Linked DNA regions of Homo sapiens: region 2 is linked to region 1. The links come from fine-mapping of genetic effects on gene expression. A gene starts in region 1. The other region holds a variant in brackets. All regions are shown on one strand. Distances are from middle to middle.

Evidence for each region.
Region 2: its variant is fine-mapped to the expression of TXLNB in whole blood (INTERVAL, PIP above 0.99).

Annotation. Positions count from the first base shown.
Region 1 is chr6:139,284,067-139,299,578 of GRCh38, reverse strand. It overlaps TXLNB (taxilin beta), which reads left to right and starts at 7,581. Exons shown (of 10, transcript NM_153235.4): 1 at 7,581-7,658; 2 at 10,666-11,103. The coding sequence starts at 10,680. It overlaps LOC102723690 (a long non-coding RNA gene), which reads right to left. Exons shown (of 5, transcript NR_197427.1): 3 at 13,659-13,697; 4 at 12,677-12,735. RefSeq lists enhancers at 8,357-8,606, 8,807-8,866 and a silencer at 8,453-8,747.
Region 2 is chr6:139,329,152-139,344,663 of GRCh38, reverse strand. It overlaps the pseudogene LOC100129844. Among named protein-coding and RNA genes, the nearest start is that of CITED2, 38 kb to the left of the region's middle. The variant T/C (reference allele first, on the strand shown) is at 8,514.

The DNA of each region.
Region 1 (15,512 bases):
ACGATAGCTGGCAAACCCTAGGACAAGGAGGAATGAGAAGAGGGGAGGGAAGGAAGAAACATCCCTGTCCAGGAGGTCCCAGTCCAAAACCATGGGTGGCCTGAGGACTTCAAAGTTGGGACTATTAACAGTTGACATTTCAGTTAATCTGCATTATTGCCTTCTTCTTGCCATTAGTAAGGTTTGTTTGGGTATCTTGTGGCCAGAGTTCTTTCAGATGGGATATGTTTCCCAAGTTTCTTACAGGGAACATGAGCCAAAGGAAGCAGAATGCCACAAAAAGGGTGACATGAGCCCTTCGAGTTCAGCAACTTTTGTTCCCAGGGTTGTTGAATATTCACACGCCAGCTGGGCTTTCTTACCCATGTGCAGCAACAAGGCAATCCCTCCCCTCCCCAGGAGCAGCCAGGGGCCAGCCAATGGGAACAAGCCAATGGCAACACAGATTGTCTTAGTCTGTTTGTGTTTCAATAAAGGGACACCTGAGGCTGGGTTGTTTATTTAAAGAAGATATTTATTTGGTTCACAGTATTGCAGGCTGCATAAGACGCATGGTGCCAGCATCTCCTTCTGGGGAGAGTTTCAGGAAGTTTCCACTCATGGTGGAAGGTGAAGGGGAGCAGGCATCACATGGCAAGAGGGAGGAAGAAGGAGAGAACATGGAGGAAGGTACCAGGTGCTTTTTAGCAATCAGTTCTTGTGGAAACTAATTGAGCAAGAACTTGATTCCAAGAGACTCGCACCTAGCCATTCATGAGAGATCTGCCTCCATGACCCAAAAGCCTCCACCTCCAACACTGGGGATCAAATTTCTACATGAGACTCTGAGGGGACAAATATCCAAACTATATCACATACTTTAATCAGGACCAATCACTTGACCTTCACATCCTCTTGCTGGCATGCAGGGGTTGCAACAGTGGAGTCTGCTTTAGGGGAATGTCATTGCTGCAGCCCATAGTAGCCACTAAAATCCAACTCTACCCTCAGGGGACACTCTGCATGAACAAGTCAACATGCAGTTCTATGCTTCTGAATCTCTACTACATCCAGCAATGGGATAAGGAAGAGCTCTTCAAAGATGGGGAGGTCCAATATTCCTGCAAAATAACACACCTTATTCTGATCTTCCTTGAAGCAAATATTGACATGAGCCAAATGTCCCCTGTAGAATGCATGCAGCAATGTCATATTAATTTGAATTCAACAGAGAATTGGTATAAAGGAGCCTATCCTAGAATCTGTCTGCATTATTTATAAGAAGACTTTCATGATGAAATTGTTAATATAAAAATGTAAGAGTAATAAGGCTACTTAAGAGGTGGGGCTCTTTGCAAGTACAAGTGTAGCACCCAATATTTATACAAATTTCAAACTATTTATTTTATTTATGCAAGTCCATCTGCTCTTTACTAGAAATAATATTTGCTTGCCTAATTTTGCTGACAAGTGATAAAACAATTCTTTTCACAGGGTGGGAATCATATTTCACTTTTAGTACAAATTAAAGAGTTGTCACCATGGGAATTGAATATTGTAACTTGCTGTTTGGTTTTGTATTTGGATTAATACAAAATAATCTCTGTTTGATTACAAGCCCACATTTCCCTCCATTTTAGAAAGACAAAGGTGATGTCTGCTGAGTAGAAGCAGTATAGAATGATGCGCCCCCACCACCCCAAGCCAGATCTAGCCTAGGTCAAGAATATAAATACCACAACCAAGAGATGATACAATAGATTCCTTCAACTTGGTCCTAGGCAGCAACAATTTGAAAATGTTATTGGTGTAGAAAATATTAATTCCCATTCACAGGCTTTATTTAAACACATAATTATTGGAATTAATTAAAAAGATTATGTGTTTGTATTAAACCACATTTACTATGTTAATTTCATAACAATCATATACAATAAGTAGTCCCCATTCTATGGAGTAGGAAATTGAAACTAAAGAAATTAAAATATAGCCCAAGTAAAAGACAGATCTGGAATTCACGTGGAAGCTACTTGATTTTAAGGCTCATAATCTTAATTATTTAATGATTTCTGTTTCCTTTCAGCCCATGGTAGAATAGTACAGAATTTATAAACTTCTATACTTGAAAAAGATCTTAAGTGAATCATTTAGTTTACCCCTGCCCCCTTTCCAGACATTTCTTTACTAGTATTCCTGAAAGAAAGAACAACCAAGTCTCTACTGGATATTTCCAATGCTGATGCTTTTTATTTGGAGGGATAGGTCATTTCATTACTGGACTGCTACAGTGGTTAAACACATCTTTATGGTAAAAATCAGAAAAGAAGAGAATTCTGACTTCTTTCTTCTATAAAATTCACCAGTAAAGAAGAAGAAGAAAAAAGGCAGAAAAAGGGAAGCTCTAATGTTAGGGAAGCCAGAAGAATTGAATCCATAAACCCCAAACCACAACGGATGAGGACTAGAACACAATACATAGTGGTAAATGATTCAACAGGAAGTGTGCTTCACAGGGATGAGTTGGATGTAAGTGGGACAGGCAAGCAGTGAGGGGCAAGCTGATTTCCCTGGTAGACTGGAAAGACTAAGGAATTTGAGGTTAATACTCTGCAAGTGGAGATACTATTGAAATTGGCAGTAAAGCAGGAGACTACAAATAGTAGGATGGTTTGTTGGCTGTTGGCTTTGTTTGTTTGTTTGTTTGTTTGCTTTCAGAGATGGGGTCTCACTATGTTGCTCAGGCTGGATTTGAATTCCTGCATTCAAATGATCCTCTCGCCCGCCCCTGTCTTCCAAGTAGCTGCGACTACCAGGTGCGCACCATCACACCTGGCTTGTTTGTTTCCAGTTAGGAGAAGGAACAGTTAGAACAAAGGGTCCTAAATGCCACCCTTCAAAATCAAGCCCCTTTCAGGATACCTGAGGATTGTTCTCTGAAGAAGCTTAACCAGAAAGGCTCTGAACTGAGCGATATGAGGCTCAGAGGAGGACAAGGGTGAGCAACAATGACGAAAAAGAGAAGAGGTTAAACATTTGAGTCTACAGACATTAAAACCAAGTAAGCATCCAAAATAATAAATGAAAAAAAGATCTACATCAAATTTAATCATTGTGAAACTTCAGAACATCATGATAAAGATGCCAAATGGTTCTAGAGAGGAAAAAAAATGGATCATATCCAAAGGATTAGGAATAAGAATGACCTTGCATTTTTAAGAAACATTAAAAACTAAAAGACAGGGGAAAATAATATGTCTTAAGATTTTTAATAAAAATTATTTTCAACCTAAAAGGTTACATCTAGCCAAACTATCAATCAAGTAAGTATAAGGGTATCAAAAAGATATTTCAGGCACACACACAGTCTCCCATAAATGCTTTCTCAGGAAGCCACTAGAGGATATGTTTTTCTAAATGAGGAATTAAACCAAGAAAGAGGAAGAATAGGAGCCAGGCAACAGGAGAGAGGTAAAGGGAATTCCCAGAACGACAGCAGGGGAAGTGCCAGGACCACAGCTGTGTAGCAGGCCTAGAAGCCACCAGCCCAGGCTGGAGGAGGGGGGGGTCAAGGTTCTAAGAGTGTTTGTATGTGGGGATCATATCTCCAAAAAAGTACTAGAATACATAAATTATTTGACCTTTGGGAATATTGTATAGAAAGATTTATAGGCCTCTTACGCTGTTTGGGAAGACAGAGTATTCTCAATACTAGGCAAATGAAAAGAAAAAGAAATTATCAACTCCAGGAAAAACAGAAAGTTGCATATGAATAGAACTATAATCACAATGCTCTACCTGGTTTAACAGTAAACATTATTTCAATAAAGACAATATAGGATATGAATTAAACATTGAGATATAATTTTGTGGGGAAAATGAAGAGAGGAGAAAAAGGGGAGTGTAAACAATGAAAATCTTCATCTATCATTATGAGAAGACAATAAATAATGTCAAAAATTGGTGAGTTGTAAATAAAATCAAGGCATTTTATTTAAAAATGATAAAGTAAATCCCCCCCCCAAAAAATATCTACAACAGTTTTATGTTATTACCTCTAGAAAGCATCACAAGGTTGGAGGAAGGTGGAAGAACAAGGAGTTATTGTTTCTTGGGTTAAGCTTTTTAGCATCATTTGAATTTTCAAATTATTTTCCTGTGATATTTGCGTAAACAGTTAGATGTATTTTCAAAAAATAAGTGTATTCTTTACAAAAGTTCAAAGCCTTAGACGTGTAATTTGTGTTCTTTTAACGTTGATTTGACAATAAAACACTGAGCTCTATTAATTTGCTGTCTTTATTAACTTATCCCAGTTTTTTGGGCCCCTATCAGGCCACAGATAAATTCTTGGGAGTCACAGTTTTGCATGTTTGTATTATTTTCAATTATACTTGAAAATGCATATGCCTGTTTTGGATCTGGGTAGCCACTGTGTAAGTGTCATTTTGATACCTCCACTATCATGTGTGTATCTATTCAAGTTAGGGCCAATTAGCACTACTTTAATAATTGCAGGACAATGAGAAAGAATAGGGCTTTCATCTATTCAGGCTGCTATAACAAAATAACATAAACTGAGTGACTAATAAACAATGGAATTTTTTTTTTTTTGAGACAGAGTCTTGCTCTGTCGCCCAGGCTGGAGTGCAGTGGCACAATCTCGGCTCACTGCAACCTCTGTCTCCTGGGTTCAAATGATTCTCCTGCCCCAGCCTCCCCAGTAGCTGGGATTACAAGCATGCGCCACCACATCCAGCTAATTTCTGTATTTTAGTAGAGATGGAGTTTCACCATGATGGCCAGGCTGATCTTGAACTCCTGACCTCAAGTGATCCACCTGCCTTGGCCTCCCAACGTGCTGGTATTACAGCCGTGAGCCAGCGTGCCGGGCCAACAATGGAAATTTATTTCTCATAGTTCTGTAGGCTGGAAAGTCTAAGATCAAGGTGCAGGCAAATTCTGTGTCTGGTGACTTCCTCGTACAAAGCCTTCTTCTCACTGCACCCTCACATGGCAGAGGGGTAAGGGGTTTCTTTCAGACCTTTTTTATGAGAACACTAATCCCATTCATAAAAGCTCTACCCTCATAATCTAATCACTTCCCAAAGGCCCCACCTCCTCATACCATCACCTGGGGGTTTATGATTTCAACACATGAATTTTGGGGGGACACAAACATTCAGACCATAGCAAGCAGTAAATGATGCAGCCGTATCAAATGAGAGCCCCATGAAATCATAGCAGGCCATATGAATAAAAACTATGTAATAATTTGAATGAATCAAGTGTTGAGGAAATTCCCAAACCACATTGTAGAAGAGTACCAGAAACTCAAAAAACCCAGCAGTCAATAGAGTATTCATGTTGCAAGCAGCAATTTAAGTTCAGCAAAACAATATCTGTCACATAAAAGTAGTGTTATTAATTTGAGTCGCATTTATTGATTTTGTAGGCTTTAAAATGTATACATTTTAAAATTTATGTAACTACTGTAAGCATAAGGAATTTATCCTATTTTCATTTTAGTACATGTAGGTTCAAATAATAATATAATCCTTCAAATAATTTCCACATTATTTAAATTATTCTGTTAAGTGAGTCTATACATTATTTAAATTTGAAAAGCACTGACTTGTTTATATTTACTAAGAGATGTGATCGGGTCAGTTTGCTACAATCCAGGATGGAATGCCACCCAATTTGTGGCACTCACCAAGTATTCATTAATTTAGAAGAAAGTGCTTTTCTCTTTCATCAATTTTAATTCACTAACTTAATTATCAAATAATATAGTGAACAGCTTCATTGTCTTCAACACTGGAATTTCTTTATCCTGACTTCTGCTTGTTGGGTGCACTCATCTATATATAACTTATGCCTCCCCTAAACTCAGAGAATAAGTAGGACAAAACTGGGGGTGGGATGTTTTCATTTCCTTTTGTTGCCATAACATCTTATCACAAATTTAGCAGCTTAAAAATAACATAAGTTTGCTATTTTATATTTCTGGAGGTCGGAAATCCAAAACGAATTTCTTTGATCTAAGATCAATGTCGCAGGATTGCATCCCTCTGGAGGCTCTAGAGTATAATCTGTTTCCTTGCCTTTCCCAGCTTCTAGAAGCTTCCTGACCTATGCTGAGGTCATCAAATCTCCTTTTCTGCCTCCAATCCTACTGCCTTCCTCCCTCATTTATAAAGACCCTTATGAGGCTGAGTGCAATGGCTCACGCTTATAATCCCAGCACTTTGGGAGGCCGAGGTGGGCGGATCATGAGGTCAGGAGTTCGAGACCAGCCTAGCCAACACAGCGAAACCCCGTCTCTACTAAAAATACAAAAATTAGCTGGATGTGGTGGCAGGCGCCTGTAATCCCAGCTACTTGGGAGGCTGAGGGAGGAGAATCGCTTGAACCCGGGAGGTTGCAGTGAGCTGAGATTGCACCACTGCACTCCAGCCTGAGTGACAGAGCGAGACTCTGTCTCAATAAATAAATAAATAAATACCCTTATGATTACATTGAACCCACCCAGTAGTTCAAGATAACCTCCCTACCTCAGGATCCTTCCTCACATCTGCAAAGTCTCTTTTGTCATGTAAAGAAACATATTCACAGGTTCCAGGGAGTAGGACGTGGAGATCTTTTGGGTGGCATTATTCTGCCTCCCACAAGGGATGCCACTATGCCTAGCCTGTCCCCAGAGCAGAAACCGATGGAGGAATCTGCTTTGGAAGTATGGGAACACAAGCTCCAGAAAGAAAAATAAAAGGCAAATGGATGTAAATTAATAGACAGGCATTTTATGGTGAATCAGAAGGAATTTCTTTTTCTGAGGAGGATCAAGGAGCATGTTGAGGATTTACAAAATGTGGGAAAGCCACCAACTAAGGAAGAAAAAGCAGACTGCTTCCCTGAGGGTTTGTTTGAGATGGGAAGAGTTACCTGGGAAAGACTGTGCTCCAAGGTCACACCAATTACCACGTGCATGAAGATTATACTCAGTTCAGCTCCAAAATCACCATCTACATGTTTATTTCAAACTTTGCAAACAAACCAAACAATGACATCAGAATTAAAATGGTTCCACCACCTCCCTGTTCTTATGCCATTGTTTTTCTTTTTCCATGATTCCTGTAAGAAACCTGACACTAATTAAGCTAGTGCAAGAAGAAGAAGAAAAAGAAGATGAATCTTCCACCACACTGGAGATAACCCAAGAAGTAAGAAAAACTGATCTCTACCCAAAAAGGACAACAATGGTGAAAGACTGCATTTGCAACGGGGGTAATATACTCAGAGTTTAAATTTCCGAAAGGACAAACAAAACATGGAGAGTCTAATGAGATCTTCCAGCTGCTTCTCTCTGCTAAGGTATTTCCCCTGGCAACAGCTAGGGAAGCTTGGGTGTATTTTCCCCTTGCTGTGTCATATGATGTTCCTTTCCCTACCCCCACCTCCTCCAGACTGCTGCCTCCATCAGTGCCTGTGGCGTGTGTGTGTGTGTGTGTGTGTGCGCGCGCGTGCGTGCACGTGTGTATGTGTGTGTGTGTGTATTGGGTTTCTCTCTCCCTTGTAAGAACACAGCCAGCCCGCCCTCTCCTGCTGTTGCTGCAGCTCTGACTTGCTTTTTCCTGCCTCCTTCCTCTCCTCTCTCTTCTTGCTTAGCTTCTTGCCTTCTGGTAAGTATGACAAACACTCCCCCAAGCCCTGTGAGAAGGTATAGGGTGCGGTTTGTGGTGTTCGAAACTTGCAACTTTGAGATTGCCAGTGAACTGTTGGAGAACTTTTCATTGTTGTATTTATAAATAAAATGTGTTGCTTAGGGAGGGATGTGTCTGTGATAGTCATCTGGAATAGCCAACACAAGTGAAAAGTTCTCTCCCTGGGGAGGGGAAAATAAGGCAATAAAGTTTATATAAGATAAAAGTTAGAAATAATTTCTTTGCCACATAATATAAAATGGATGATTGAAAAGTAACAAAGTTCTCTGACTTTGTTTTTTTCCCTCTTGTTAACTTGTCTTGAGGCTACTTTTGGGAATTGAATTGTCCTGGGCTTTATAATGACTGTTCTGTTTTAAAGTAAATGTGGAACAGGAGTTTAAAGAATAGCCATGGAATTAAGAATTTAAAAAATCAATGATTGTGGCATCTCATGAAGAATAAATCAAATACAAACAGCCACTTGCATTTAGACTAACCGAAGTAAAACTCCTATGGACAGCTTATCTTAAATTAATTATTTTGAAGTTCATTTTACTTGAGATTTTATTTCATCCTAAGATAGTCTCCCCGACTTTAAAACCCATGTATGGATTTAAGCCACTAAATGTTTACTGTTTTCAATTTGACTGAAAAACGATTCTCTTGATTTTCAAGGATGAAGTGCTAAACGGCATGACTCATTTTAGAATAGCTTAAAATAACTTCTGGCTGGACAGCAGGTGCCGTGTGTCTTTCTCCGTGTTCAGGGGAGGCCTAAGTTATATATAGATGAGTGCAATCAACAAGTGAGGTCAGGAAAAGAAATCCCAGTGATGAAAATAATGAAACTGCTGCATTATTTGATAATCAAGTTGGTGAATTCAAACCAGTGAAAGAAAAAAAGTACTTCCTCTAAGTTATGAGTGTTTGGTGAGCATCACAAGTCAGTGGCAACATCTGTGTGTTGAATTTTCTGTTCTTGTTGGTGTCTGAGCATTCAATTGACATCTACTGCCCTGAGAACAGGAAAAGGAAGCTGTGCAGTTGTAGAACAGTATGCTTTTGTTTTCACTTTCATGTTACCACAACAGCAAAACCTGTGAATTATGAGGATCTTGCCACATTTTTATGCTGCTATTTAGCAGCATCACTGTTAAATATTATTTACAAATAAAATGCACCATAACTTAAAGGCCTAAACCAAATCTATTGCAACTCTAGAAGTGGTAATAGTCAGAAACCCTGGAATCTCTGACTCAGTACCATCTCTCACCCTTTCCTAAGGGCCCTTATTATTGCTGAATTATTTCTCGAGTTGGTCTCCTCCTTGTTTATGAAACATTGCTACTTCTTAAAAATCATTAAGTTTTTCTAGAGCTTCCTGACTTAGAAGAGAAAGTTGTAATCTGTTTTTCTCTTTTAAAAAATTGGTTTATATATTGGAATAAAAGAGTATTATAGAAATTTAAGGAATTGTTGTTATAAGTATCATCATGCTTTTGTTTTGTTTAGTTTTTGAGACGAAGTCTTGCTCTGTCACCCAGGCTGGAGTGCAGTGGCACGATCTTGGCTCACTACAGCCTCCGCCTCCCAAGTTCAAGCAATTCTCATACCTCAGCCTCCCAAGTAGCTGGGACTACCGGTGCCCGCCACCACACCTGGCTAATTTTTGTATTTTTAGTAGAGACAGGGTTTCACCATGTTGGCCAGGCTGGTCTCCTGGCCTCAAGGATCCACCCGCCTCGGCTTCCTAAAGTGCTGGGATTACAGACATGAGCCACAGCACCTGGCCCGTGTTTCCATACTACTTTGTCTATTTATTTATACCTTCCCTCATTCCCTGTCTTAATCTAAAAATGATGCCAGTTTAAGCCTCAAAAAAAGCATTCGTGTTGCTTATCTGAAAAAGAAAATGCCAGAAAAGTGAGAAATGTCTCCTCTATCCAGTGTAATAATGCATTTACATCAAAATATTCACACTAAGCAAAATATTGATTTATGGATCAAATAGAGCTTAGAGATGTTATTCTTATGAGTTATTTAAATAAATTCAATGGCTCTTCTATTAAATATTTTAACTTTGAAAGAAAACTAATACCACTTTATATTTAAACATTTTAAATATATACAGTCATGTACCCCCAGTGATTGTTAATCTACATAGAATTATACAGGAAAATGGTAACACAAACTGACTAGTGTAAGCAAAATGACAAATATGGCCACAAAGAAAAATAGCATGAATTACTTTCTTAATGTGAATAATAAGGAATGCTACTGAAAACTGAAGATCAAAACCAAAAATATGCCAGCAGTGTGACTTGATTTGGAAAAACAACTTTCCACTGTCCCTACTTTAATAATTGTAATGCAGCAGGACAAGCCGCAGACAAAACCCTTCAGACACCCAGTTAAAGAAGGAAGCAGTTTAATCGGCCGGGAGCGTCAGCAAGACTCCTGTCTCAAGAGCCGAGCTCCCTGAGTGAGCATTTCTTGTCCCTTTTAAGGGCTCACAACTCTAAGTGCGTGCACGTGAGAGGGTTGTGATTGATTGAGCAAGCAGGGGGTACGTGACTGGGGGCTGCATGCACCGGTAATTAGATCGAAACAAAACAGGATAGGGATTTTCACAGTGCTTTTCTATACAATGTCTGTAATCTATAGATAACATAACCTATTAGGTCAGGGGTCAATTTTTAACTACCAGGCTCAGGGCGCGGCACCAGGCTGTCTGCCTGTGGATTTCATGTCTGCGTTTTAGTTTTTACTTCTTCTTTGGAGGCAGAAATTGGGCATAAGACGATATGAGGGGTGGTCTCCTCCCTTAGTAACATCAATGGTTTGTGAAAGGACATTGCCTTTCTCTACGTTAGAGACTATAATTAGTTGGTATTCACTTGGGGGATATCCTTACCATTGAAATGTAGCATTGATATGTAGCAAGTAGGTTAGCTACATAAAGCCTAACTGTGCTTACCACTAGATACTACTCCCAAGATGGAGGCTAATCACTCTGAACAGCTCTCAGCGGAACGACAGTCAACACCTCCAGGTGACAGTTCATCATTACCCAGTCACAATGGCCTGGAGAAGGAAGATGGCCAGGATTCTCCAACCCCAGTCCAACCACCAGAGAAAGAGGCAAGTGTGCACCCCGATATCTCTGAAGAGCTGAATCGACAGCTGGAAGACATCATTAACACTTATGGGTCTGCTGCCAGCACAGCAGGGAAAGAGGGCTCTGCCAGGGCCAGTGAGCAGCCTGAGAATGCAGAATCACCTGACAACGAGGATGGGGACTGTGAGGAAACAACTGAAGAGGCTGGAAGAGAACCCGTTGCTTCTGGAGAGCCACCCACTGTCAAAGAGCCCGTCAGCAATAAGGAGCAAAAATTGGAAAAGAAAATCCTAAAAGGATTAGGCAAGTAGTTATGTTCAAATATGTGACTTTTCTGTATGGTATTCCTAAAAAAGGGGCACTTCTTCCAAACTTCACTAAAAGCCACATCCAATATTTGGATGACTGTAGTAGCCTTCTATATTTTCCCTTGTTGTATTTGTCCCCAGCCCTTACCCCTCAATGGAGCTCAGGTGAACTTTTCAGTGTGTTACCCATTGACCCTTTGTTCCGTGGCCTCCTACTGCTCTTAGGATGAAGACCAAAATCTTTAACATGTTCTCTAAGATCCTAATGGTCTAACTCCAACCAGTCCCAGTTTTATCTCAGATTACTCTACCCTACAACATCACCTTCCTGAACACTCTGCCTCTATTACCACCACCACCACTACTGCCTAATAGCTAGTCATTCTGATCTTGTCTTTCAGGCCTTTGAACATGCTATGCTCCATCGCCCACAAGGCCTGTGCACATCCTAGTTTCTTTACCTAGAAATCTGTACCTATCTTCAGGTGCCCAATGAGTGTTTATTAATGCCTAGTCTTTGTAAGGCACTGTGCTAGGTGCACAAAGATAAATAAATCATGGTCTTTTGGTCAAGGAGCTGTAAGTATAGAGAAAACAGAAGACATGTAAATTAATTATATAGGAGAAGTGCAAAAACGGGAAAAGGAAAATTTTTTAGGAGAGCATGGGAGATTGGTGACACCAACGATGGCTGGGAAAAAAGGGTGAGAACGTTAATTTTTAAAACTATGAGTGAAGCATGTTACTGTACATAGGAAAGTCCCTCTGCTTGTCTTTCCTGGTGGAAACACTCACTACGAATACTCCCTCCTATGTGATACTTTCCCTGACATGCCCAGGTAGAGTTAGCATCACCTTCCTTAGTTTTCTATTAAATTTTCTGCAGCAATCATTTGTTTATATACCCATCTCTCATGCTAGATGGAGAATCTATCAAGGGCAGAGACCACATATGATTTGTTTCTGGAAGACTATGTGGTAGAGTGAAAGATCATGAGCATTGGAGTCAGAACTGGGTTCAAACTCCAGTAACCAGACTATCTGTAAACCCAAATATATCACAAACTGGAGTAGAATATTTTTCTGCAGTGAGCAGGTATATACAAACCTACCCACAAAGGCCAAGGGAGCTGAAGGCCAAAAACAGAGGCTGACAAATCCACTTTCTCAGAAAGAAATATTTAATAGGGGCTTACAAACAGTAGTGCTGTCTTGGGCAGCAGTGAGACAGTGAATTCCTACACCCACTCTCCAGAAAGTGTCCTTTACATAGCAAGCTTTTAGGTAAAGTCATGTGCAGCTGGTCACATCTCCAACTTTCTTGCCAAAAGTCATGACCACTGGGAACGTTAGATAAGCATCTTTCTGAGGGATTGTCTATGTCACAGGCATTGTTTAAAGACCTTGCTGCAGAACAGCCGTCAACCTTTTTGGCACCAGGGAAGACAGTTTTTCCATGGACTGGGGAGGGATAGTTTCGGGATGATTCAAGTGCATTACATTTATTGTGCACCTTATTTCTATTATTATTACATTGTAAGATATAATGAAATGATTATACAACTCACCGTAATGTAGAATCAGTGGGAGCCTTGAGCTTGTTTTCCTGTAACTAGACGGTCCCATCTGGGGGTGACAGGAGACAGTGACAGATCATCAGGCATTAGATTCTCACAGGGAGCATGCAACCTACATCCCTTGCATGTGCAGTTCACAATAGGGTTCACGCTCCTATGAGAATCTAATGCCACCGTTGACCTGACAGGAGGTGGAGCTCAGGTGGTAATGTGAGTGATGGGGAGCAGCTGCAAATACAGATGAAGTTTTGCTCTGTCGCCTGCCACTCATCTCCTGCCGTGCAGCCCAGTTCCTAACAGGCCACGGACTGGTACCTCACCCTCCCAAAGTGCTGGGATTGCAGACGTGAGCCACTGCGCCCGGCCCCTAGTCTTCCTTTGAACGGTCCGGTCACTCTCCCAGATAGTCTGTTTCATCTGTTTTAGCTTGATTTCTAGTTTCTCTGAGAGAGTAATAAACTGCAGCTTTGATATTTTCTGAAGGAGATGGTATTTTCTGAAGGAGACTAAATTTTCTGAAGGAGATGATAAGAAGACCAGAGAAATTCAAGGGAAAGAGGAATAAGCAGAGACAAAGCTTGACAGGTAGATTCATAGAGAAGCTAGAACCTAGACCAGACCTTGACAGGGAGGAGAGTTTACAGAAGCAGATGGAAGGGGAGAGAAAAACCTTGAGGAAAATTATTAGTACTCTCTTCTGACCAAGGTAGGGAGTGGATGGATGAATATTTTACTGTTTTTTCTAATATTTTTATTTTTGTTATTGGTAATAGTGTATACACATCATCACTGTTGACCTAATAAGAACTCCAGATCCACTCTCCTACTGAGTGAGAGGCCAAAGTTCCCCTACAAATATGACAAGGCCACTGAAAGATAAGAAATAGAAAATGTAAGCCAAAGGGAACAAAATCTGACAAGAAAACACAGGCTAGGTGGTATTTTCGAAACTGATAGAGGCCTCTCGTGGGTAAAATCTCTCTCGTGGGTAAAGTCACTTTCCCCTTGGCATCTGAAATGAAAGAAATGAAAACAGATTTCCCATTATGCAGCCCACAATGACTGGTACCAGTCCGTGGCCTGAGGGTTGGAGATATCTGCTGCAGAACACCTTGGTATGGAGGAGTCAAACATTGGTCATCATGGCAGGTTTGCTTTACGATGGCATCACTCTTGCCATGCAAGGGGCTATTTTCCTACAGATATCGCTATGATGCTAAAACCCATTGCTACAATGCTTTCAAGAAGGCCTAAATAATACATTCAGGTAGCATACTTCACCCAACTAGGATAAAATTAAAAGAACTCAGATAATAACTTTTAAGTATCTTCAAGTTCCAAAGTGCAGGGTTGGAATCACTCTAGTGTTTTGGAACATGGAAAAACATAATAAAATTGCTCTGTGTTACAGAGCAATTTTTTCTTCTCTGACAAAACATCTCAAATGTGTCCCTTTGCAAAGTTAGTCATTATTCAAGTTTCCGTAAGACAATATACAAAATCTCATTCCAGAGGTAAGCAACTTCAAGTGTTCCTAACCAGAAAAGTTATTTTTCAATCACCCTAAAACTTTTACATAAGAATTGGGGTGTGTGTGTGTGTGTGTGTGTGTGTGTGTGTGTGTGTGTGTGTGTGTTGAGGGGAAAGATATGAAGAAAATAGGGATAAAGTTAAAATAACCAATTTGGGTTTCTACTCTCTTCCATGAGTTATTTCATAATCTGCATTAACCTTACAATTACCAAATAGTCAGGATGATGTTTTTAAAAATTCCAACTCCCTAATTCTGCCGCTATTTACGATACCAAATTCCAACTGACTGTGTTTGACCAAAATCAATGCTTGTGGATTAGAGTACCTAGGTGTGTCCACTCTAATTGAGTATGTGTGGGCTCATGACCTTTCTGTGCCTTCCCACTCATCATCATTAGCATATTATTTTAAACACTGTACTATTTAACAGCTACATTATGCATGAAAACAACATTTTTAGGCTAACCTCAACTTGTAACCACCATTTTAAACTTTCAGTTGTTTGCAAGTAGCTTTGGCAGCCTTCTTAGCTACTTTTCAGTTAAATGGTACTGTGCTATCGTCTAGACTAATGGTTTTCCAACTTAACTGTTTATTAGAATCAATTGCAAAATTTGTGAAAAATGCTCCTCCTGAGCCCCCACACACAGATATTTGGAGTTTGTAGGCCTGGAGTGAAGCATGATCTAGTTTCTCAGTTCTTTGAACATGCTATACGCCATCTCCCACAAGGCCTGTGCACATTCTAGTTTCTTTGCCTAGAAATTTCTACCTATCCTCACGTCCTCAATGAGTACTTATTTATTTATTTTTATTTATTTACTTTTTTTCTTTGAGACAGAGTCTCACTCTGTTGCCAGGCTGGAGTGCAGTGGCGCGATTTCGGCTCACTACAACCTCCAGCTCCCTAGTTCAAGCGATTCTCCTGCCTCAGCCTCTCGAGTAGCTGGGATTACAGGCATGTGCCACCATGCCCAGCTAATTTTTGTATTTTTAGTAGAGACGGGGTTTCATTGTGTTGGCCAGGATGGTCTCGATCTCCTGACCTCATGATCCACCCGCCTCGGCCTCCCAAAGTGCTGGGATTACAGCCGTGAGCCACCGCACCCGGCCCACAATGAGTATTTATTAATGCCTAGTCTTTATGATGCACTGTGCTAGGTGCGCAAAGATAAATAAGTCATGGCCTTTAGTCAAGGATCTCTAGGTAGAGAGGAAGAAGAAGACACATAAGCTAATTGTCATATAGTGTAAGTGCAAGAGCAGGAACAGGAAAATTTTTAGGCGAGCATGG
Region 2 (15,512 bases), 45 kb before region 1:
ATGCTAAGCTCCCATAGGAGAAGTCCCAGATGTGCCTGCAGTGATGGACTAGGGGGAAAAGAAGTTCGCTTCTCCAAGACCCTTCACAAGTGCTAGGGCTGCCTGACTGTTGGGGTAGAGCTATAGACTGGTCACGTGGACGGACTCAGAACCTCCTGGTTAGCCAGGGTGCTGCATGCAATGGTGATAGCTGAGGTCACACACAAGTTTTCTCCTTCCTGGGCTCTGTGTTATTCTACCTGAGAATGCTGTAATGGACTGTGTCAGTTGGCCTCCAGCCAGGAGGTGGTGCTTGCAAAAGAGTGTCAGCTGTGGTAGTAGTGGTGGGATTTGTGCTTGCCTTATGTAACTCAGGGGAGGTATTCTAGAATCTCAGGCAATGGGTGGGTCCATAGAGCTCCCAAAAGTTTCTGTCCCTTGTGTTAAGCTACCAGGGCAAGTGGTGGAGCAAAGCCAGGTGGGGGCTGGGTCAGGCAGGTCCATGCTCTGGCTCTCCACATGCAGGGCAAATAACCCCAGTAGGAGCTGGGGGCCAGTTCTCCGGCTGCTCCGGTAATATTCCAGGAAGCAGTGCAGCTGCCTGTGTTGCACAGAAGAGTTTCACAGGGAGTGGGGAATAGCAGGCAACAGTAAGCCTACCCAGCTCCCACACGCTTAGAAAGGCAGGTGGCAGGTCGCAGGCCAGGCGCGGTGCTCATGCCTGTAATCTCAACACTTTGGGAGGCCGAGGCAGGCAGATCACGAGGTCAGGAGATTGAGACCATCCTGGCCAACATGGTGAAACCCCATCTCTACAAAAAATACAAAACTTAGCCGGGCATGATGGCACATGCCTGTAATCCCAGGTACCTGGGAGGCTAAAGCAGGAGAATTGCTTGATCCCAGGAGGCGGAGGTTATAGTAAGCCAAGATCACTCCACTGCACTCCATCCTGGGAGAAAGAGTGAGACCCCGTCTCAAAAAAAAAAAAAAGAAAAAAGAAAAGAAAAAAGAAAGGCAGGTCTCTCATACTTGCAGTGTTACACTAGCATCAGCTAGCTAAGTTCCAGGCAATCTGCACTTAAAACTCAAAACTGCCCCAGCCCATAAGCCTTCCCTGTGGAGACAGCAACAGCTGCTTTCAGGACATGCTCCTCCCAGTCCCAGCTCCTGTACTTGTGGCTATAGCACACTTCCCACTTGCCCCCAGTTCTGGCCAAGGGAGTCTGTCCCCACTTGAAATTATATCATGAATTTCAGCTAGGAGCTTCTCTCAACGTGCAACCACCACTTGAGTTAGTTGGCAGACTTCTGGGAAGTCCCTTGTGAGGTAGGACCAAAAATCACTTCCCTTAGTCTGTGCTGAAGACTGGGAATGCACACAAGGCTCTTCCCACTGCTGCCCCTGCTTTTATATGCCACATCAATCCCTAAATCAATGCCAGCACTCAGTAGGGTTAAGGCCTTCCCCCATGGACTGGATTAACTGGTTCCCCAGTGGGAGTGTATTTCCTGGAGGCAGTTTATCCCCCTTCAGATTCTGCAGACTTAGTTTTTCACCTGACTCATGGTGTAGGCTGCAGCCCACCACTTCTTTCAAAGGGCCTGTGGTTTCTTTCAGTTTTCCTGTTTAGTTCCTGTGTTGCTTCTTGGAGAAAAATTCACAGTGTGAAACACTACACACTATTGTGTCTTTCCAAGGAGGAGAAGCATGCTGACAATGTCTCCAATCTACCATCCAAGAAGAGACCAAGAGTCTTTTTAGGAATATGAAACTATCCAGCACCAAACAAGGAAAAAATCTATAATGCCCAGCATTCAATCAAGGATTACCATACATCAGGATCTCAAATCTAATAAAACACAATTTAAAGAAAGAAAATAAAAGATCACCAGTCATGAAGGAAGCAAAACACCACCCTTAATGAAGAGAAAAGTCAGTCAATTGAAAACCACCTAGATGTTAGAATTAGCAGACAAGGACATTAAAACACTTATTGTAACTGTTTTTCAAATGATCAAAAGTTAAGTAAAGACATGAAAGATATAGAGGAGACCTAAATCAAATTCTAGTGATGAAAATTTTAGAAATGAGATGAAAAATTCATTGGATGAAATTAGAAGCAAATTAGATGTTTCACAATAATGTGATTATACTTAACACCATTGTACTGCACACATAAAAATGGATAAAATGGCAAATTTTATGTAGATTCTTTTACCACTATATATACAATATATATATTTTTGAGACAAGATCTCACTCTGTCACCCAGGCTGGAGTATAGTGGCACAATCATGGCTCACTGCAACCTCAACCTCCCAAGCTCAAACAATCATCCCACCTCAACCTCCCATGTAGCTGGTACCACAGTCACATGTCACCATGCCCAGCTAATTAAAAAAAATTACAGGCACAGTGGCTCATGCCTGTAATCCCAGCACTTTGGGAGGCTGAGGTGTGTGGATCAACTGAGGGCAGGAGTTCAAGACCAACTTGGCCAACATTGTGAAACCCTGTCTCTACCAAAAATACAAAATTAGCCAGGCATGGTGGCAAGCGCCTGTAATACCAGCTATGCAGGAGGCTGAGGCAGAAGAATCACTTGAACCAGGGAGGCAGAGGTGGCAGTGAGCCGAGATTGTGCCATTGCACTCCAGCCTGGGCAACAGAACAAGACTCTGTCTCAAAAAAAAAAAAAAAAATTGTAGAGATGGGTCTCACTTTGTTGCCCAGGCTGGTCTCAAACTCCTGGGCAATCCTCCTGCCTCAACCTGCCAAAGTGGTGGGATTACAGGTGTGAGCCACCACGCCCAGCCTAAAAATATATTTAAGGGGTCAGGTGTGGTGGCTTAAGCCTGTAATCCCAGCACTTTGGGAGGCCAAGGCAGGTGGATCATGAGGTCAGGAGATCTAGACCATCCTGGCTAACATGGTGAAACCTTGTCTCCACTAAAAATACAAAAAATTAGCCGAGTGTGGTGGTGGGCACCTGTAGTCCCAGCTACTCGGGAGGCTGAGGCAGAAGAATGGCATGAACCCAGGAGGCAGAGCTTGTAGTGAGCTGAGATCACACCACTGCACTCCAGCCTGGGCGACACAGCGAGACTCCGTCTCAAAGAAAAAAAATATATATATATATAAGGAGTTTAAGAAATAGATTAGAAATTGCAGAAGAAAAGATTAGTGTATATGTGTATATGAAGACATAGCAATAGAAATTATCTAAAATTAAACAGAGAAAGAATAAACATTTAAAAAACCATGTATCACTGTGCTGTGGAAAACTTCAAGATGCCTAATATACATGTAATAGAAGTCACTGAAAAAGAAGAGAGAGGGTAACAGAAAAAAATGGGAAGAAATAATGGCCAATAATTTTCCAAATTTAATGAAAAGCATAAATCTACATATTCAAGAAGCCCAATGAACCCAAAGCACAAGAAATGTGAAGAAAACGACACTAAGGCACATCATAATTAAATTTTCCTAAACAAGTGATAGAACATTGTAAAGCAGAGAAAAACATCACAATATATTTAGGGAAACAAAGATAAGAACTATAGCAGATCTCGTATAAGAAAAAATGCAAGTGAGAAGACAGTGACACACAACATCTTTAATGTACTGACAAAAAAATTATTAAACTGTCAAACTAGAATTTTATACCAAGCAAAATATGTTTCAAGAACTAAGGTGAAATAAAGACTCTTTCACATATACAAAAGCTGAAAATATTTATCAGCAACAGACTTGCTCTATAAGAAATGTCAGGCTGGGCGTAGTGGCTCATGCCCGTAATCCCAGTGCTTTGGGAGGCCAAGGTGGGTGGATCACAAGGTCAGGCAATCAAGACTATCCTGGCCAACATAGTGAAACCCCATCTCTACTAAAAACACAAAAATTAGCTGGGCTTGGTGGTGCGCACCTGTAATCCCAGCTACTCAGGAGGCTTAGGCAGGAGAATCGCTTGAACACGGGAGTCGGAGATTGCAGTTAGCTGAGATCACGCCACTGCACTCCAGCCTGGCAACAGAGTGAGACTCCATCTCACCACAAAAAAAAAAAAAAAAAAAAAAAAAAAAAAAAAAAAGAAATATCAAAGGAAGTTCTTCAACCAAAGACATGAGGAAAAGGGAAGAAAAAGAAGAGATGGGTCAAACAGAAAACAAATGGCAAGATGACAGACTTGAATCTATCAATTATCACATTAAATATAACTTTGTCAAAACATCTCAATTAAAAGTCAGAGATTGTCAAACAGAAAAGAAACACAGGGCCGGGTGCGGCAGCTCACGCCTGTAATCCCAGCACTTTGGGAGGTCCAGGCTGGCGGATCACCTGAGGTCAGGAGTTCGAGGCCGGCCTGACCAAACCCCGTCTCTACTGAAAATACAAAATTAGCTGGGCATGGTGGCACATGCCTGTAATCCCAGCTACTTGGGAGGCTGAGGCAGGAGAATTACTTGAACCCAGGAGGTGGAGGTTGTGGTGAGCTGAGATCGCGCCATTGCACTCCAGCCTGGACAACAAGAGTGAAACTTCGTCTCAAAAAAAAAAAGAAAAGAAAAGAAAAGAAAAAAACAGAAGACCAAACTATATGCTGCATATAAGAAATGTACTCTCTCTCCATATATATTTTCTTTCTTCTTGATCAGTCTAGCCAGAGATTGACCAATTTCACTGATTTTCTCAAAGTAACTGTTTTTGGTGTTATTCATTTACACACACACACACACACACACACACACACACACACACACGTTAGATGTTAAAAGACAGAAAAAGATAATCTAGCTAACCTTAACTATAAGAAAGTTGTAGTGACTATATTACTACCAGACATGATAGATTTCACAGCCAACAATATTACATGGGATTTTTCAAGTTTATTTCATAATGATAAAAGGTCATAAACAAATCTAAACATTTATGCACCTAATAATAAAATACATTGAGCAAAAAACTGATAGATCTACAGGAGAGGCAGACAAATTATGGTTTGAGATTTAAATATTCCTCTCTTAATAGAAATGATCTGCTGATTACATTTAAACTGAGCGACTCTGCATTTTCTGGATTCTGGATGGTTGCCTTTCATGAGCCCAATCGAAGAAAGAAAATCCTTGGACCAGATGCTTCACAGCTGAAGCCCGTAGGACCGCGGAAGAATACCTTGAAGATATTGTTTGCATCAAAATCACCCAAATTTATGTCTTCCTTATCCAGGTCCTGCCCACTGTGATAATGAATCGTTTTCTTGGAATCAAAGAGGATGATAAAGACCTCGCCACTTCCTTGATCTTCTCCTCCTCCTTTTGAACCCCAGCGCTGGCTCCATCATGACGATGTGGATGGTACTTCAAGGCCTGTTTCCAATAAGCTTTCTTGATCTTGTCCTCAGAGGCATTCTTGTCACTTCCAGAACCTTGTAGTAATTATCCCTCTTACTCTTCTTCAGTTCCAGCTGTGCATTTTTTAGGAGCTGTTTGTATTCTTTTGTTTTCTCCATCTGATATACTTTTTTCATAGCCTCGCACTGTTTCTTCATACTGTTCTGTGTCCAAGAAACACTGAGCTCTTCTCAAGTAGGCTTTTATGTAAGTGTCATGAGCTTCACTGCATTTGTGCAGCTGTCTATTGCATCATCTAGTTTCCCAAGCTCGGAATTAACCATATCCCGGTTACAGTAGAGTTTAGCAATTGCTTTTATGTTGTCGGGGTCTACCCCGGGGGTTCTGCGTACAGTTCATCAGCTAGTTTGTAATTTCCTTCCCTAAACGCTTTATTCCAGTCTTCTTTCTTTGCGTTAAGTGCTCTGGCATTTCTGCACGCAAGGCAGGCCTTCTCATGGTCAGGAACCACTCTGAGAGCCTGTACAAAAAACTGAACAACTGCCTACTCAGTACAATCTTCATAATAAAGGCAAGGTCCGCGTACATACAGAGCATCCACATTGGTGGAATCCGTTCATAAAATGTCACTGGCCACAGACTGTGCTTCTGGATAACGACCCAGCATTGCTAAACATTCTGCTTTGAGGGATATTGAAGTGATGGCAGACAGGGGCAAATTCTAGGGCATAGTCCATGCAGAAAACAACCTTCTGAAAAGCCCACTTCTCAAAACTTGTTTCTATGACTTTCTCCTATTCCTTGACTGCATTAGCATTTGTGAACTCCTGTTGTGAGTGAGCATTGTTATGATCCAGTTCTAGGGCTCTCTGAAAACTGCAATGTGCTGCCATGGCATTCCCTGGAGAGAGGTGGCACTTGCCCTCTCGTAGATGTCCCCAGAAGAAACCATCATCCAATTTCACTGTGAAAGTATCTCCATGGGCTTCGCAGAACCTTCCAAGTATCATCAATGTAGCTGCTCTATTACTATGATAGCTAGCATTTTTAGGGCACATATCTGTGGCTTTTGTTTAATAGTTATAAGCTTCGTTGTAATCTTCCTTGGCATAGTGTGCATTTCCTTGTTGCTTCAAAGACTGTGCTTCAGTATTTTAAATTACAAACTGGCAAAGCCACCCTCCTTTTATTGAGGCGATCCTGCCTTTTTGTTCTTCTCCATCACTGTCCTGGCAAGCCGTCTTTGCTTCCTCTTCATGGAGCAGCCCTGGCTTGGTTGCCGCACCACATTGCACGATGGGGCAACTGACAGTTTCTTAAAAAGGAAATTATATCCCTGCCATATGACGCAGCAATTTCACTCCTAGATATTTACTTAAAGGAAAACAAAGTATGTATCTATACACACAAACTTGTAGATGAATATTTATAGCAGCTTTATTTATAACAGCAGAAACCTAGGGAAAGAAGGCTTCAATGTTTATGTTCAGGTGAGTGGATAAACAATTTTTGGTATGCCCATATAACAGAATACAAATCAATGCAAAAAGTGAACTATTGACTCACACAAAACATGGAAGAATCTCAAAATTATGCTGAGCGAAAAAAAATATATTTTTTCTCAGAATGCACACTATATTCCATGTATGTAAAATTCTAGAACACCAACTAATCTACAGTGTTAGAAAACAGATCAGTGGTTGCTTGGGGACTCAGAGGTATGGGGAGCAGGGAGAAGAAGGGGGTATTACCAACGGACATGAGGAAACTTATGATGCATATTTTCATTATCTTGATTATTATGCTGGGTGTATACAAATGTCAAAGCTTTTCAAGGTTTATAGTTTAATTATGTGCATTTTATTGTATGTCAATTTGGCCTCAATAAAGCTGTTAATAAAAATTTTGTCAAGCTTATGTTCCCCAGTAAATGAAATTTACTTCAAGTCACCAACAAAAAAACGTACAAGGTCCATTTTTCCTCTGTTCTGTGTTTACAACTGACAGTTAATATGAAAGACAGAATATCCAAAAATTCTATCTGCTGAGGGCCACAAATTATCAAGTCTCTTGTCAAGGGTGGCCAGCCACTGGTTAGTGGCTCAAGACACAAAATGCAGAACCAACACATTCAACTGACCATGATCATTTCTCCAGGGGTAATCTCAGTTCAAGTGTGCACTTCTGCCAGTCCAGACACTTGCTTCTTTATTATTATCCAAATGCTTGCACACATCTCACAAACTGGCACTAGTTCACCGATGATGATTTGGCCACTTTGGGAGAATTCCATATGTTTCCAAAATTGTCCATCTTACAGTGTTCTTAGAGCAAATGAAGTTTCTCTTCATTAGGACAGTAAAGTCCTAATGTTGAATGTACTATCTTTTTTGATTGGAATAAAGAAGCTTCTAAATAAAATTCTGATTCTCTAATAGCTTTAATTACAAGGAAAGCACCAAAAATCCATAGCTTATTACAGTCTGTCTTTTGATCCTGTGGCAAAGGCCTACCTTGCCTCACGGCTACAGCAGCCACTGCCAAATTCATGGCCGTGTCTGCTGGCACAATTCCAGGGGCTTTCTGGGAGCTCGTGCTACACAATTTTGGCCCTTAACTGAAAATACTCATTTCCAGCAAGCTGGTTTACTCCTGTAAGATCATCTTACCTCTTTGCAAATTACTAGCCATTATTATAACACTTTATACCTTGCTACTTCCACTCTCAGGAAAAGAAGAAATGCAAATAACTTGGGGTTACCTAATTCGTAACACCTCCCTAAAGTTAGATGCCACTTGGGCTAATTGAAATTTGGGGGAAGAAGCCTAAATTGAATGATTTTACCCTGAAACAATGTCTTAAAAATCCTAATTTGGCTAGGTTTATCCTGAATTAGAAGAATTAAATTTGTCATTACCAGGTAGAAATTTAGCATTTATGACAGAAATTAAATTTGGTTATAGAAAATTTTTAAAAATCTCTATTTCATGCACAATTAAGTCATGGACTGATCCATTTACAGCCACTAAAAAAGCATCCACCCCTACTAAGAGGAGGATCCAGCCTCCTGGTCTATCTCATTTGGGCAATGATGGAATGAATCATATAAGCTCCCAGACAAGGGTCTCAAGATAGAATTTAAAATAATTCCACTACAAGGATAAAGGAGATTATAGAA[T/C]AGATTGGGACAGAAATAGGCATGCTAAGCCAGAATTCACACAGGAGTTCATTTGACTCTAAACCTATGCTCTTTTTTTTTTCTGATGAGATGGTTCAGAGTTTGCGTTTCAACTCACTAGCTTAGAGTCTGAACATTATTGCCTTTTATGTAAAAGAGGGATTATAGCGATCTTAAAGGGTGAGAGAGCCTTTGTAAAGGCCTGACACTAGCGTTTGACTCATTTTATTTAAAATTATAGCTATTTATGTAGCAGAATGTCAGGTGATGTTGTGGAGAAACTGAGGAACCAACCAAAAAAAAAAAAAAAAGGTTATATACCAAATGATCAGTTTTCTGGCCAGAGAGAATTTGTATTGAAATTGGCAAGAAAGAGGCAGCAGGATTTTTGAACTGCCTGTACATGATTAAGTGAAAGTCAGAGGGAGTCAGAAAAGAAATTATACTTGCTTTCACAGCTCCGTTCTACAGCATTCTTCCACCACAAAAAAGCTTGCAGGTGATTTGTTCAGACCAGTTCTAAACGCCTGCAGAGGTAACAGCCCCACCTTTTGGAGATTATTACTTCACCTAACTCTGATGGGAGACAAGCTAATAGGACTTCCCATTAAGAGTAGTTCTGGATACTAAATTTACTCATTTTCCTCTGTAGTCTGATTCCACTTCTTTTTATTTTCACCAATGTTCAGTGATCTTGCTTTGACTTATTGTTGCTGTTGACCTTGACTCATGGCTTCAGGTTATTCTATTCACCATCTACCTGTCCCTAGTTCTTCTTCGCCCCCTCCCTAAAAACTTCCAAAAAACCTTTCTGAGAGTATGTTTCTAAGTAACAGCCTTCCCTGTATGTTACAGCCTCTAAGATTATGAAGTCAACACCGACATGCTTCTTTTGAGACAGATTTCATCATCACAGCAGTGAAAGAAACACAAGATGCGTTTTAAGGGTGACTTTTTGAAAGATGAAGATGGCTAGGGAGAAGTCTGTTGGATGGAAGATGAGCCCATTTGGCAAAGGATTAAATGAAGCAGCAAGTTTGATAAATCTGTTCGAGGTTTAAGAATATTCAGACACCTTTTCTTCCCAAGAAAATCCCCACACATCTCTTTTGGAACAAAGGCTTCTCTACAATGGTTCCAAATGATTCAGACATAACTTCCTGCATCTGTCACCAAAGGGATTTCTTCACTTTTAGTAAGACCATTAGCTGGCTTGCCAAATTCTTCAGCATAACAAAATTATACGTCATTTCTCTCTTGGGTATGCTGAAATGGTGAAAATTGCCCAGAGAAAATAGAAACTCTGATAAATGATTTTCTTACTGTTTTCAAAAGACCCAAACCTTTCTCTTATTAAATTGAATCTTTCAGGATGAACACAATCAAGACCATGGGGAATATCTCTATATTCTTAGAACACTTTCCAGCTAAAGTTTACAGATGATATTTCTTCAGACACAGATTTAGAATTAAATTATTTTTCTGAAATAGAACTCTTCTCTCTGAGCTTATGCGGAATCAGCCAATTTGACTATGTGATTTACTTTGTCCTTTTTATATGAAGTCCAAGAATTAAAGATGAAAAAAAGAACAGGTAAATATTGCTGTAAAACAGACGTTCATGTCATAAACTTGATACTGAGAAATAAATCTCTCTCCTCATTAGTGAACTACTTGAGGTAGAGACTTCGTTGACAAAATGGCTGAAATGCAGGACCTCTAGTTTCCTCATAAATTATGTTTCCAAATGATTGGATAATATTGTCAACACAAATATGTGGTGTATATATTTCCAAATCAAGATGCTTTGTGGTTGTCCGTAAGATACAGATTGAGTTGCATGACACCACTGCTAGACAGGTATGTGAGAAAATATATTGAACACTGAAAAACAATATTTTCTTTTTTTTTTTTTGAGATGGAGTCTCACTCTGTCGCCCAGGCTGGAGTGCAGTGGCGTGATCTCGGCTCACCGCAACCTCAGCCTCCCGGGTTCAAGTAATTCTCCTTCCTCAGCCTCCTGAGTAGCTGGGGCTATAGGCGCATGCCACCACATTAGCTAATTTTTTATTTTTAGTAGAGACGGGGTTTCACCATGTTGGCCAGTCTGGTCTTGAACTCCTGACCTCAGGTGATTCACCAGCCTCGGCCTCCCAAAGTGCTGGGATTACAGGTGTGAGCCACCACACCTGGCCAAACATTTTACATTTGAATGTTCTTCCAATAGAAACACTTGACGACCTTTACTAGAATAACTCTTTATATACCAAAAGCATATCTGGGCTATGAAGACAAGTTCTTTGAATTATTCATTTCCTGAACACAATTGTATTAGTCTGCTTGTGGTACTATAATAAACTAGAGATTGGATGACTTAAATCAGAGACATTTACTTTACACAGTTTTGGAGGTTGGGAAATCCAAGATCAAGGTGCCAATAGATTCAGTGTCTGGTGAGGGTCTACTGCCTGGCTTGTAGTCAACTGCCTTCTCCCTGGGTCCTCACATGACAGAGAGTCAAAGTTCTTACTCTTCCACTTCTTAAAAAGCCATTAGGGCCGGGCATGGTGGCTCACGCCTATAATCCCAGCACTTTGGGAGGCCAAAGCGGGCGGATCATGAGGTCAGCAGATCGAGACCATCCTGGCTAACACAGTGAAACCCCATCTCTACTAAAAATACAAAAAATTAGGAGGGCGTGGCGGCAGGCGCCTATAGTCCCAGCTACTCGGGAGACTGAGGCAGGAGAATCGCTTGAACCCGGGAGGTGGAGGTTGCAGTGAGCTGAGATCGTGCTACTGCACTCCAGCCTGGATGACAGAATGAGACTCCGTCAAAAAAAAAAAAAGCCACTAATCGCGCTCTCATGACCTCGTCTAATCTTAATTACCTCCAAATCCTCACCAATAAATTCCATCATATTGGGAGTTAGAGCTTCAACATATGAATTGGGAGTAACGGGAGAGATAATGCAATTTAGTCCATAGCAATGATATGACAATATTTCATATCTCAACTGATATTTATACCCTTCTTTTCTAAAGTTCTATATCAGAAAAAAGAATTTCATGAAGAGGTCTAGAGATCGTTGACCTCAAATTCTGACCAGCTCTGCTGCTGGAACATCTGAGTTCTACCTTAGGGTGGACATTTGTTCTTTATGCCCAGGATATCCACTCTTCCTCATGTTGGTAACAATACCCCAATTTTGCTTTGGATGAACAACCGCATCCCCAGTTCATGTGCTTAGGAAAAGGTGACTCCTCTTTACTATGAGGTGGAGCCTACGCGAAAGAGCTCACCTCCACCCACCCAGGCCGCAGTCACTATGATTGTTTAAAGGATGGGATGAGCACATTGACCCAGTCTGAGCCAGAGAGAGAGAGTGTGGGAACCCCTAGAGTTATGAAGAAGCTGCAGGAGGCAATTCCCCCTCTGCAGAACTTGAAAGTAGAATAACGTAAATTTGAATAGCATTATGGACCACAGTGCAGCGCGTAGAAACGGACCCTAGTGGTATTCTCTAAGCACAGAATCCAGCAGTATCTAAAACTAGCTCTCTTCCTGGATGATTTCATTTCATCCAAAAGAGCATCAAATATTAAGTCACAGTTCAATTTTTAAATGGCTGCAATATTTAAAAAATCCTAATTGGCATTTAAGCTTCTCCACTATTTGAGAAGTAACATTTTATATCTTAATTAAATTATTATTAAAGACAAGTTTTTGGCTGGGCACGGTGGCTCACACCTGTAATCCCAGCACTTTGGGAGGCTGAGGTGGGCAGATCATGATGTCAGGAGATGGAGACCACCCTGGCTAACATGGCGAAACCTCATCTCTACTAAAAATACAAAAAATTAGCCAGGAGTGGTGGCACATACCTGTGGTCCCAGCTACTCAGGAGGCTGAGGCAGGAGAATCGCTTGAACCCAGGAGGCGGAGGTTGCAGTGAGCCGAGATGGCGCCACTGCACTCCAGTGTGGGAGAGAGAGTGAGACTCTGTCTCAAAAAAAAAAAAAAAATCCTGATTTCCATTTTTTTTTTTTTTTTTTGAGACAGAGTCTCGCTCTCTCGCCCAGGCTGGAGTGCAGTGGTGCGATCTCAGCTCACTGCAACCTCCGCCTCCTGGGTTCAAGTGATTCTCCTGCCTCAGCCACCCAAGTAGCTGACATTACAGGCATGATCCACCAGGTCCAGCTAACTTTGTATTTTTAATAGAGACGGGGTTTCATCATTTTGGTCAGGCTGGTCTCGAACTCCTGGCCTCAGGTGATCCACCCTCCTCGGCCTACCAAAGTTCTGGGATTACAGGCGTGAGCCACCCAGCCTGGCCTGAAGACAAGTTTTCAACAGGAACTTTCATTAATCTGAGAGAAAACAAAACAGCTTAAAGTTACAGAGAGGTACCTAAGTGTGCAATTTATAAGTTATATACATAACTATCAATTTTATAGTTAAATTGAAATGTATTAAATTCAAATATTTAATCTACATTTTCCTTAAAAAGAGCTAGAATGAAAGGTCTTGGATATAGAGAATAGGATCAATAATGAGCATAGATTTGGGGACACGGTTGCCTATGCTATGGCTTTTACAAGAGCACCATGAAAGTACAAATTCCAATTCTGACCAGCTGAGCTATTTTACTCAACTTTGCAGGCTTACAACAATCTCTCCTTATTGTATAGCTCCAAGGACTCTTCCCACGCAATAATTTATTTGAACAAACATTTATAGCTGGATGATGGTATCTACTCAGTCACCTGAAAAGGAATGGAGACTCAAGAGAGAATCTTCTGCCTGCAGTTCTTTAGAAACTATCCTGAGTAGCAAATCTCAATCCCGATCAACTGTTTGCTCTCTTTAATGTCTTAGGCATAGTTTCTTCAAATTGAACTCTGTGTAGAATCAATCTTATCCACAAAAAATAACTCTGTTGTTCCTCTAAGTTACAAATGCATACATTGGCTCTCTCCTCCTTTGAAAGTGTAGGACAGATTTCAGACTTCAGGTCTGGATTTCTCAATCTTTTACAAGGGGGAAAAAAACACAAAACACAACCATCTGACCACTGGACACTGTTTTATTTTTCCTTTCAGTCTCACGAAGTAGTCAAATTAATGTCATAATCATGTTGGTATTCACACATTTTTCCTGTGTTTTTTCCCATGTGTGGGATCTTGGTATAGAAACCAGCTTTTGAATTTTTTTTTTTCCAGCCAGTATCTAACATTCTGGCAGAATGAGAATGAATGAGTGACATTGTGACAGACAGAGTTTTAATTTTAAATGTTTTAGAACTTGAGTATATTTTAGTCTTTTCAACTTATATGTGTATATGTGCATGTGTAAAAGATATTATTCAGATCTTAGTTAAACATAAGTATTCTTCCTTCTGAATAGGAAGATGTTTTAGTTAGATATTTAGTTAGATATATATTGGTTGCATGTAACAGAAAAATGAACCTAAATTGGCCTAAACAAAAATGATATTTCTCCAAACATGGCTGGATCGAGGGCTCAAAAGCTGTCATCAAGCTGTCTTTTTACTCAGACTTCCCCTGTGCCGCTCTCTGTCTTTGGCTCTTCATGGAAGCAAAATAGGGCAGCTGCACTAGGCATTCCATTCCATGAGGCTTCTTGTTCAGCTGGGAAGCAGACCTTTTCCCAGAAATCAGCGAATGTCAGCATACCTGCTTGACTCAGATTGGGTGGCTGGACAATGTCTGAACCAATCAGAGAATGCAACGTAGAGATTGGTTCCACAAATTCCTGTTACCATAATGATGCACGGATGATAGGAAGCCAGAAAAACTACCTTCTTCTATGAAAAGTCCATTACAGGATGTAAGAGTTATCTTTCATTTTTTGACATACTTGTATTAAAATCTATGAGGGCAGTTGGAAAGCAGCTGCACTCATTATCTACTTATGGTCTGAAGATTCACCTTAGGATAAGCTATACTAAAATACTTTGAGACATATTTCAAATCTACAGAGACAATAAATTAAAAACTCCACTTAACAGGTCAGTTTATGGTGTAGGTATTGGTATATTTTGCAAATAATTCTCAGAATGTAATTATAACCAAAATTAGATTTGAGTAATACCCTACTTAACCCAGAAACTCAATTTGGAAACTTGAGTAGGAGGCATAGGGGAAATAACTTTTTCTGCTTTATTTTAGTTCTATTACTATACATGATGTTTGATAAGGACATGTTGACCTCTACTTGTCCCTTTTCTTAATAAACTTTGCCTTTCTTTTAGCTTAGTTCACCAGAAAGCAACATGTACTTATTATCTTAACTCTTCCCTGAAATGCCTTCGTGGAAGTTTAATATTATCCTCTCAGAATCCATCAAAGGTTAATGCAGGAAATGGCCATTCATAGACCTTTTTAAAAATTTTACCTTACTTTAAGCATGTGCAGAATGTGCAGGTTTGTTACATAGGTATACACGTGCCATAGTGGTTTGCTACACCTATCAACCTGTCATCTAGGTTTTAAGCCCTGCATGCATTAGGTATTTGTCCTAATGCTCTCCCTCCCCTCACCCCCAAACCCCCAACAGGCTCTGGTGTGTGTTTTTCCCTTTCTGTGCCCATGTGTTCTCATTTATCAACTCCCATTTATGAGTGAGAACATGCGGTGTTTGGTTTTCTGTTCCTGTGTTAGTGTACTGAGAATGATGGCTTCCAGCTTCATCCATGTCCTCGGAAAGGATATGATTTCATTCTTTTTTATGGCTGCATAGTATTCCATGGTGCATATGTGCCACATTTTCCTTATCCTTGTAGACCTTTTTGCACCAACCTAATATCTTCCATAAAACAAAATTTAAAGGTACTGCTTACTGCGCTATCAACTCCTTCTCTGCTCTGTATGAATCCCTACAAGGAATTCCTCCTGGAACAGAATTCCTACCTGGCACACAATGTTTGGAATACTGAGGGGTTTTGTTTGTTGTTTGTATGTTTCTTTTATAATATTT